Homo sapiens: one gene and its partners. The protein of the gene in region 2 interacts with the protein of the main gene of each other region in a pairwise test. Each region holds a gene or a part of one and is shown on either strand. Other genes may lie near its edges. The genes, in order: SH2B1, NTRK2 and NMNAT1.

The links.
Region 1: the proteins of NTRK2 (region 2) and SH2B1 interact in a two-hybrid assay, tested with the Homo sapiens proteins (one study listed by BioGRID).
Region 3: the proteins of NTRK2 (region 2) and NMNAT1 interact in a two-hybrid assay, tested with the Homo sapiens proteins (one large-scale study listed by BioGRID and IntAct).

What each region holds. Positions count from the first base shown.
Region 1 is NC_000016.10:28,866,823-28,870,474, forward strand, and holds part of SH2B1 (SH2B adapter protein 1), read left to right. Parts: coding exon 1-211; intron 212-508; coding exon 509-610; intron 611-2,183; coding exon 2,184-2,275; intron 2,276-2,385; coding exon 2,386-2,561; intron 2,562-3,652. UniProt on the Homo sapiens protein: Adapter protein for several members of the tyrosine kinase receptor family.
Region 2 is NC_000009.12:84,672,711-84,676,362, forward strand, and holds part of NTRK2 (BDNF/NT-3 growth factors receptor isoform a precursor), read left to right. Parts: intron 1-3,652. UniProt on the Homo sapiens protein: Receptor tyrosine kinase involved in the development and the maturation of the central and the peripheral nervous systems through regulation of neuron survival, proliferation, migration, differentiation, and synapse formation and plasticity.
Region 3 is NC_000001.11:9,967,407-9,971,058, forward strand, and holds part of NMNAT1 (nicotinamide/nicotinic acid mononucleotide adenylyltransferase 1), read left to right. Parts: exon of another isoform or gene 1-52; intron 53-3,652.

The DNA of each region.
Region 1 (3,652 bases), on a different chromosome or scaffold from region 2:
AGCAGGGATGGTGCAGAGGGAAGAGCTGCTGAGTTTCATGGGGGCTGAGGAGGCAGCCCCTGACCCAGCCGGAGTGGGCCGGGGAGGAGGGGTGGCTGGGCCTCCTTCAGGGGGAGGAGGGCAGCCTCAGTGGCAGAAGTGTCGCCTGCTGCTTCGAAGTGAAGGAGAAGGAGGAGGAGGAAGTCGCCTGGAGTTCTTTGTACCACCCAAGGTGAGGCCCCTTGGAGGGTGGGTGACTGAGAGCAAGTGAGAGAGTGCTCAGAGTGGTCACAGCCCTGCAGATAAGCTCTGGGGTTTACCAGCCCATGGCCCTGGTGTCGCTCACTTTTTGTTGGTAAAGCTGGCTCTTGGCTCTGTGTTAGCAGCTGCGGGCAGGACTGAGAAAGCAGTGTGACTGCCTTTTGTCTAACTTCCCGAGGATGTAGAAGGAAAGATGAATGTCTGGAGGGAGGGGAAGAGTGGTCTTTGGAAACCAAACACCCAGATCTGTTTCTTTCTCCTGACTTAGGCCTCTCGGCCCCGACTCAGCATCCCCTGCTCTTCTATCACAGACGTCCGGACAACCACAGCCCTGGAGATGCCTGACCGGGAGAACACGTTTGTGGTTAAGGTAGGAATTCAACTTCCCAGCCGCCGGCAGTGCTTGTGTTAAGGAGAAAGCCCTCAGCGCATTTAAGCAAGTGGCGTCGCCGAAAGGAGGTATATATATGTGTCCAGTGCCTTGAGAGTGTGTCCCTGGGGCTGCAGCTTTTCTGGGATAGCGGAAGACAGGGAAATGTTCTTACTCTCAAAAACAATGCCTCCACTTGAAAGAGAACTGTGGAGTTTTTGTTGTTGTGGTTGTTTTAGAGAGACAGGGTCTCCCTCTAAGTCAGGAGTGCAGCAACCTGATCATAGCTCACTGTAGCCTCGTGTAGCCTCGAACTCCTGGGCTCAAGTGATCGTCCTGCCTCAGCCCTCTAAGGAGCTGGGACTACAGGCATGTGACACCATGCCTGGCTAATTTTGTTACTTACTTACATTTGAGATAGAGCCTTGCTCTGCCGCACAGGCTGGAGTGCAGCGGCGCGATCTTGGCTCACTGCAACCTCTGCCTCCCAGGTTCAAGCGATTCTTGTGCCTCAGCCTCCTGAGTAGTTGGGATTACAGGCATGCACCACTATGCCCAGCTAATTTTTTGTATGTTTAGCAGAAATGGGTTTTGCCATGTTCGGCAGGCTGGTCTCAAACTGGCCTCAAGTGATCCACCCCACTTGGCCTCCCAAAGTGTTGGGATCACAGGCGTGAGCCACTGTGCCTGGCCTTATTTTATTTTATTATTTATTTATTTTTTTTGAGACAGAGTCTCGCTCTGTCGCCCAGGCTGGAGTGCAGTGGCGCGATCTCGACTCACTGCAAGCTCCACCTCCCGGGTTCATGCCATTTTCCTGCCTCAGCCTCCCGAGTAGCTGGGACTACTGGCGTCCGCCACCACGCCCGGATAATTTTTTTGTATTTTTAGTAGAGACGGGGTTTCACCAAGTTAGCTAGGATGGTCTCGATCTCCTGACCTCGTGATTTGCCCGCCTCAGCCTCCCAAAGTGCTGGGATTATAGGCGTGAGCCACTGCGCCTGGCCTATTTTATTTTATTTTATTTTTATTTTTTATATTTTTGAGACGGCATTTTACTCTGTCTCCCAGGCTGGAGTTGAAGTGGCATGATCTTGGCTCACTGCAACCTCCGCCTCCCGGGTTCAAGCGATTCTCCTGTCTCAGCCTCTCGAGTAGCTGGGACTACAGGCGCCTGCCACCACGCCTGGCTAATTTTTGTTTTTAGTAGAGACAGGGTTTCACCACATTGGTCATGTTGGTCTCGAACTCTTGACCTTGTGATCCACCCTCCTTGGCCTCTCAAAGTGCTGGGATTACAGGTGTGAGCCATCGTACCCGGCCTCGCCTTATTTTATTTTTCAATTTTTTTAGAGACAGGTTCTCACTATGTTGCCCAGACTGGTCCAACTCCTGGGCTCAAGTGATCCTCCAGAGGTGCTGGGATTACAGGTGTGAGCCTCTGTACCCGGCCTCCAGAGAGAATTCGAATGCATCTTGTTTGTAGACAGCCTGCATACATTGTTCTCATTAGGCATGGATTAAGCCTCCTCCCTGCCCCTGCCCCAGCTGAGGCGTCGTCTCATCTCTGTAGGTGGAAGGTCCATCCGAGTATATCATGGAGACAGTGGATGCCCAGCATGTGAAGGCCTGGGTGTCTGACATCCAAGAATGCCTGAGCCCAGGGTGAGAAGCCTGACTTCTGTCGCTAAGGGACATAGAGTGGGGTTGGGGAGCAGCCTTGCGCCTCTCACCTGGTGACTTTCCTCCCAGCACCATCTTCCCTGTCTCTGCAGACCCTGCCCTGCTACCAGTCCCCGCCCCATGACCCTCCCTCTGGCCCCTGGGACCTCATTCCTTACAAGGGAGAACACAGACAGCCTGGAGCTGTCCTGCCTGAATCACTCGGAGAGTCTACCCAGCCAGGACCTGCTGCTTGGACCCAGCGAGAGCAATGACCGCCTGTCGCAGGGTAAGGGTGGAGCCTTAGAGAGCTCGGAGCCTCGGAACCTGCCATGCGGGGCCCCTGCTGTCAGGCGCCATGCCCTCTCCAGACGCCACTGTGCCCCCATCCCTGTTTTCCAGATGCCCTACCCCAACCCCACCAAATGTTGGTCTTTGATCCCTGAACACAGCCACAGTTTGCTGTTTAGAATAATCATGACCCCACGCAGGCCCCAAGCAAACCTTAGCCAGGCTTCTGCACCCAGCCTCGCCACTTTTTCAGTCAGCGTCCTGCCAGCCACCGCTCTGGCTGGAAATAATGGTGGTTTTCTCCAAGCTTCTGGAACACTTTGTAGAAATCTTTGTTTTGTTCTTACTCTGCATCTCTGTGTCTGTCAGGGGCAATCACGTTTTCTCTTGACTCTGTACTTTTTGGTCTGACCAAACACACATACCCGACCCACACACACAAACACACAAAGATGTGTCACCCAGTCCCAACTCATATTTCTAGATTCGGCCTCCACTATAGCCTTTTCTCCTGACCCTCTGTTCTGAGTTCCAGCTGCACAGTGCCTAGCACACAGGCTGTATTCAGTGAATGAACACATGAATCATGGAATCTTAGATCTAGAGTGGACCTTGCATCTCATCAGATCTTAGTAGCTAAGACCAGGGAGAGGACACCTGAGGGTCACTGAGGAAGACAGGGGCTGCGCCACCCTGTTTCCCAAGCCATGCTGTCTGTGCACCACACGCCTGTCTTCTGAGCACTGCCTGCCTATGACATTTGTGTAGGCAGTGGCCTGCTGTTGGACAGACTTGGAGGATGGCCCTAGTGCATACCTGGCCCTGCTCTGTGTCCCGGGCCAGGATGGGGTAGCTAGGATGCCTGAGATGAGCTCCTTGTTCTCTAGAGGCTTTCAGCTGGGTTGACATCACTCCCTATAGAAAGCTTAGTGTCCCCTGAGCAGCACAAGCAGGAATCACGTTGGGAGCTCAGGAGGAAGAGAGCAGGGGAAGGTGGGAGAGACAGGGACTGCGACGCCGAGGAGAGGAGAGGACATGCCTGGGGACGTGAAGGGCAAGAGCAGAGACCTGCGGGGAGGGCCCAGGATA
Region 2 (3,652 bases):
TGATCTGAGAAAAAGGAAATAAAACTATCTTTAAATCTAAAAAATTATTATTTCAGACCTTCCTGATCTTAGCTGCCTGATGTATATGAAATCAATTGATTTCAGCAGAGCTTTCTTATATCTGTCCTCACAATTGTTGTTGCTTCTTTTATATCTGATGGCAGGTTCCTATTTTCAGCTTTTTTAAAGTAGATTTTAAAAATATTTACAAAAGCATGTGTCATAGTTATTCATTCAATCGTGGCACTTCTAATTTCTACTCTAACTTTTTTCCCTTTTGATTTGAAAACCTCTTGGGGTTGTGGGATTGGAGAGGTATATAGGGCTAAGTGTTGAGAACAGGGAATTAGGTTAGTAATATTAGTCTGGCTGGGTAGATGTGAGTCCTGAGACAAAGTATGTTTCTCTGCTCTATCTCAGCTTTGTGTGAGCCCAGCCAGTTTGTGCCCCAGTGCCTTTGTCTGTAACTCGTATGACAATACTTCTTTGGAAAGTACTCCATATAATTATTTTGAATTCTGCTTTTTTGACCTAAAAATGACATCAGTGGATGCGCTTGTTTCACTCGCATCCTTATATGACACCATCTATGTTCTTTTTCTTACATATTAATATTTGCTTGCACAGCTTTTAAATTCTTGTCCAGTGGATACCAGCTACAGTTGGAACCAAATTATACATATTTTAAAACTTTGTTGTTAGGCCCAGTGGTATTCCTAAAATAACCTGTTGTAAAGTTCTGGTTTAGTGGTATGTAGCTGAAGTTACGTGCGTCTATTTTTTAAAAATAGAAATAATGTGGTGAATAAACTGTGATTAGCAACACACAACTTGCTGAAACAACGGTTTACCATATCATTCAAAAATGGTGTATCTTTTAGCATCTATATATTAAACCATCATGCCCTTAGGGTTCTAAGAACACAAATAGTGGGACATTAAAAAAAATGTGTAGATTAACCAAGAGGTAGGATCTTTTTGTTTTGTTTTGTTTTTACATGCATGCTTTCAGCTAAGCTGACATTTTGTCTTCAGAGTCATTGAACCTATTTTATTAAAAATCTTCCCATCACAGTACCTGTTTTATATTTTTTGCCCACTAATGTGACATAACTAGATCAATATCTATCTATAGGTATGTATCACGCCTGCTCAACATCACACTGCTAAGTGGCAGCTCCTGTTATTTGGAAATGGTTATACCACAGCAGTGTTAAAATGAATTTAAACGCAGTACCAATGTCACATGCAATGGAATTCAAGAGTGAAGCCTGTTGTTGGAATTATGTAACTGGCCGTTTAAATCCCAGTTGTATTAAGTGCCAAAGTGCATTGCAAAGGACAAGTTCTGTTTCACCCAAGTGGTAAAAGGCACAGTCAAAAGAAGTCGTGCATTTTTTTAGCTGTGGTAAAAAAAAAATACATAACCTAAAATGTACCATCTTACAGTTCAGTAGTGTTCTGTGTATCCATGTTGCTGTGGAAGGGCATGCATTTTTATGTTGCACGTGCTTTATGAAGACTAATAGGGATCTTTTTTTTGAATTTCTCCAGTGGTATTCTCTGATTTGGGGGTAATATTTGAGAACAGCCTTATATTTTTCCTCTTAGCACAACCTAAATAGAATTTGGAGCTTCTCCTATGACAGACTCTATGTGCAATTTATTGTTGGCCTGGTTAAGCAGCTGTAATGTTGTGTCATTAATACATTGATTTTGGCCCTCTTACTTTAATAAGCTTTGCCATTGCAATTAATTGTACTTAAAAAAAAATCCTGGCATTCACAAAGATTCAGTGAAAGGCATCAATTTTTATTACTCTGATGTTTACTTCTCAGCCCCTCCATTGGGGGTTTTAGAACTTTGGACTGTGTCTTATATGCATTTAAGAGCCATGTATTTAAATTTGGAGCACGGTTACATAAGCCACACTAGACTTGTTAATGAATAAGGCAGTCTAATTTACATCATTCATTATTTAATACAACTTGCAAGCTGGAGTTGAGAACATGCTGTCTTCATAGTGTAGGTATTTACAGACATCAGCTTGGCACAACTGTGTGGAGTCTTTTTAGTTTCATACCTTCAATCTCTGCAATATGGACACTTTTGTTACCCTGGGTAAAACAGTGGAAAAGCCTTGTGACCCTTTTGACCCTACTTTCTTCCACCTCCCCTTCCATCACCCATTATTTATACAGGAAAATGGGTTTGATTTTTTTCTTCTCTGAAAAGTGATATTTCCTTATGGGAATTCAGAATGCTGGAGTTAAGAGAAGAGCCTGGGCTGTATGTTATTACAAGCAAGTATTGGGAAGTTGAAGCAATGTGGTCCCAGTTCCCTAGTGTGGAGTTTAGGTCTGTTTAAGGTCTCTCACTGTTTCTATCCCATAAACCTCTGTTTGTGTCTGCTTCAATATTCCCTTATAAAGGTGTTTTCTAAGCTGAAGAGTTGGCTGAACAGCTGAGAGTTGAGGTCTCTTTCTCCCTAGTAATATTCTGTATGATCTCTTTGACTATATCTAGGTCATAGGAGTATAAAAACTAGTGTTTTTGTTTAGCTGGGGAAGGGGAATTGAATTTCTTTTCTCTTCTCCTTTCTTTCTTTCTTTCCTTTTTTTTTTTTTTTTTTTTTTTTTTTGCCTTGAGTGTTAAGCAAGTGCATCCAGTTTTAACTCATTGGTCATCTTGCCTGCTAGGGAAAAAAACATTATCAAACCATTATTGAATACCATAAACTGGCCTTATCCCTCTGGCTAACTTTACCACTTCTCTAGAGAGTTTCTTGTAGGTTCAAAAGCTATAGCGTAGGATGTGACATGAAAGACCTGCCCCTTGGAACAATGCCAATTTTTAGTTGCTTCTGATGCCTGTAATCAATAGGAGGATTTGGGGGAGAGACTATTGAAGCATGGCAAAGTTTTTACTTGTTTGATGTGTGTTTGTGAGAGAGAGAGAGAAAGATAGAGGGAAGAAAAAAAACCCTGAATCTTGGATTATTTATGGTTGATCAATCATTTTTATAGTCTACTTGGTTGAGCTATTTTAAAACAAATCCCACCTCAAGCCTCAAATGGCAAAGATCTGAGCTCCACTGTGGCCTGATAATTTTAGCTCACATTTGATTGCTGATCAATCTCCATTAGAAAAGTAAAGGTCCCATATAACTGGGTGCCTTCTCACCACTTACTTTGCTCTCTGGGGTGTCCAAAGGACTGGGAAGTTATAAATATTGATCTGGGAGATGGATGAGTGAATGTGCTCAAAGTTACAAAAATCTTGCAAAGAAAAGCAATGTGTAGATACTAAGTTTATTCCTTATGTGTTTCAAAAAATAAAAATAAAAAAGCATATCATGGAAAGCTGAAGTCAGGAGACCTGGAACTTCATCCCAATGTCACCACTACCCAGTCACTACCCAGTTACCTGATCTTGAAGCAGCCTTTTAATGTTTCTGGGCCTCAGCTTGTCACATGTAAACTGAGGGCTTTGGATTTGATGCTCAGACAAGTTTCTCAAGGCTCTGAAGTTCCCTGAAGCCTCGGTCACGGAGATAAGGAAGTGTATACATCAGCTGTGAAGGAAGGGCATGATACAAGGTGCTCGGGGTCTGGCAGTGTGTGAATCTGAAGACCTTTGGTGTCAGAGTGTT
Region 3 (3,652 bases), on a different chromosome or scaffold from region 2:
AAAGGGTGTATGAGAGATCAACCCTTTATCATGAAACGCTTGAGGATACGCTCCAGAAAGATTAGAAAGCAAAGCGAGAAATAAATAGGGGATCTAACCCAGGAAAGAGATGAAGAAGTTTTCAGAATAATAGCTTCACAAATAGAGATTTTTCATCTGGATAAGAGGAGGAGAGTTCCAGAAAGAAAATCCTCTGGGAAAAAAACAGATTGAATAGAATAGCAATTGTAAATTAAACCATTTGAAATTGATGTTTTGTTGATTAAAAAAAAAATTGCTTGCTGAGCACAGTGGCTCATACCTGTAAGCCCAGCACTTTGGAATTGGCCAAAGTGGACAGGTTCGCTTCGAGATTCTGAGCCCAGGAGTTTGAGACCAGCCTGGGCAATATGGCAAAACCCCATCTCTACAAAAAATACAAAAAAACAATTAGCCAGTGCATGCCTGTAGTCCCAGCTGCTTGGGAGGCTGAGGTCGAAGGATCACTTGAGCCTGGGAGATGGAGGTTGCAGTGAGCTGAGATTGTACCACTGTACTCCAGCCTGGACAACAGAGTGAGATACTGTCTCAAAAATCAAAAAACAAAAGACAATTCTAGTAACATAATTTGCAACATTCATAATAGCTATATTCATAGCATGTTTGCTATTTGCCAAATGTAGTTTTTTTTTTTGTTTTTTTTTGAGATGGAGTCTCGCTCTGTTGCCCAGGCTGGAGTGCAGTGGCACGATCTTGGCTTGCTGCAAGCTCCGCCTCCTGGGTTCACGCCGTTCTCCTGCCTCAGCCTCCCGAGTAGCTGGGACTACAGGTGCCCGCCACCACGCCTGGCTAATTTTTTTGTGTTTTTAGTAGAGATGGGGTTTCACCATGTTAGCCAGGGTGGTCTCGATCTCCTGACCTCGTGATCTGCCCATCTTGGCCTCCCAAAGTGCTGGGATTACAGGCGTGAGCCGCCGCGCCTGGCCTGCCAAATGTAGTTCTATGTCTTGGATCTGTATTGTTTCATTTAATCCTCACAACAATCAGGAGGTAGGTAGTATTATTTTCTCCTTTTTAAGATTGATTAAAAACTGGGACAAGGTGGGCACTGTGGCTCATGCCTGTAATGCCAATACTCTGGGAGGCCGAGGCAGGTGGATCACTTAAGGTCAGGAGATCAAGACCATCCTGGCTAACATGGTGAAACCCCGTCTGTACTAAAAATACAAAAAATAATTAGCCAGGAGTGGTGGCGGGCACCTATAGTCCCAGCTACTCGGGAGGCTGAGGCAGGAGAATGGCATGAACCCAGTAGGCGGAGCTTGCAGTGAGTCGAGATCATGCCACTGCACTCCAGCCTGGGCGACAGGGCGAGACTCTGTCTCAAAAAAAAAAAAAAAAAAATTAGCCAGGTGTGGTGGCACGTGCCTGTAATCCCAGCTACTTGGGAGGCTGAAGCAGGGAGGATTGCTTGAACCTGGAAGGCAGAGGTTGCAGTGAGCTGAGATCGTACCACTGCACCCCAGCCTGGGTGACAGAGCGAGACTCTGTCTCAAAAAAAAAAAAAAAAAGCCAAAGAAAAAACCTGGCACAAAAGGAAGGTTAAGTTAGGGTTAGGTTGCCCAAGGTCATGCCGTTGGAGCTGCAATTTGAAGCCAGGCAGCCTAATATCAGAGCATAGGCTCTTAACTCTTCTGTTATATAGGCGGGAAATTGTAGGATACTTTCTTGTAGAGTCTGACTAATCCAAGCAAAAAGACCTGCGGTACTGACAGGTTACTGAACAGTTATGGCCCCTGTGCACAAGCCCTACCTACCCACTCAGCCTGTCCCATCAGCTCTTTTTGAAGAAACTTTAAAATATATCATGAATATTGGTAGAGAAATAGAGATGATAATCTGTTGGGGAAATGAGTAGAATACCATAAACAGGAGTATTCAGAGGATAGGGCTCTTGGAAATTAAGAGTGTAATGGCAGAAGTGAAAACTAGGCAGATTGGAGGATGAAGTTGAGGCTATCAGGAAATTAGAGCATGAAGGCAGGAGGTGGAAAATACAGAAAAAATGATTAGATGCTTCAGCTCTAAATAATAGACATTTTCAGGCCAGGCACAGTGGTTCATGGGCGGCTGAGGTGGGTGGATCACTTGAGGCCAGGAGTTCGAGACCAGCCTAGCTAACATGGTGAAACCCATCTCTACTAAAAATTCAAAAGTTATCTGGGTGTGGTGGTGCATGCCTGTAGTCCCAGCTACTTGGGAGGCTGAGGCAGGAGAATTGCTTGAACCTGGGAGGTGGAGGTTGCAGTGAGCTGAGATCGTGCCACTGCACTCCAGCCTGGGTGAGAGAGGGAGACTCTGTCTCAAAAAAATAAATAAATAATAGACATTTCAAAAGAACAGATAAAATGGGAGGCAGAAAATCATCAATGAAAGAACTCAAGGACATTTTCTAGAACTGAATGTTACAAGTTTCCAGACTGAAAGGACCTGCTTGCCCTGTGCTCAGCATGATGGATAGAAACAAAGCTGCACTAGAGGACAGCACTGTGAAATTTCAGAACACTGCGGACAAAGAGAAGACCTTACATGCTTCAAGACAGGAAAAAAATGACATTCAAAAGCTCCGGAATTAGAAGTGGCTTTGGATTTCATGCTATTAACATTGGAATCTAGAAGTAATGCCTTTGAAGTTGTGAGAGAAGATGATTTTCAACATAGTCTGGAGATAAACTATATTGGGCAGTTTGGGAGAAGGTAGTCAAAGGGTATGAGGGCTAATCTTTATAGATCATAAAGTCAATGGGCACTGTTATAGTTGGATAAATTAAGAAATGGCATTATAAGCACATAATGTAGAGTTATGGTAGAAACTACCAGAAGAAATAGCTGAAAAAGTTAAAAGTGGTTGGATGGAAGGGATGATGAGTGGAATATGATTGATGGCTGTTGGTTTTCATTAAGGGCCTTTTTTACCCTGTGATGTTCTAGATCTATATATATGAATTAGTTGAATAAGAAATTTTAGGCCAGGCGCAGTGGCTCACGCCTGTAATCCCAGCACTTTGGGAAGCTGAGGCAGGCGGATCACAAGGTCAGGAGATGAAGACCATCTAACATGATGAAACCCCGTCTCTACTAAAAATACAAAAAATTAGGCAGGTGTGGTGGCAGGCACCTGTAATCCCAGCTACTCGGGAGGCTGAGGCAGAAGAATGGTGTGAACCTGGGAGGCGGAGCTTGCAGTGAGCTGAGATCGCGCCAATGCACTCCAGCCTGGGCAACAGAGTGAGACTCCCGTCTCAAAAAAAAAAAAAAGAAATTTTAATAAAAACCTAAAATTGGATGCCTTATGTTACTTCATTAGGGTTATGGAAGGATCAGTGGAATAACTGATATGAAAAAGAGGTTTGTAAATTATATTCTATTATTTAGTGGAAAGTTATGATGTTACTATCATGTTGACTAAAAGGCAAAAATGCTGTATTTGGTAGATGATAATATTGTTGTATTAATTAACTGTGGCCACAATAGTGCAATCACAAAACTTGAGTGACATATGATAATGAACACTAATTTTTTGTTTTTGAGACTAGGGTCAGCTTGTTGGCTTGACGATCTGAGCCAGGTTTGGTTGATCTCACTTGGGTTTGCTTATGTGTCTGAGCAGATG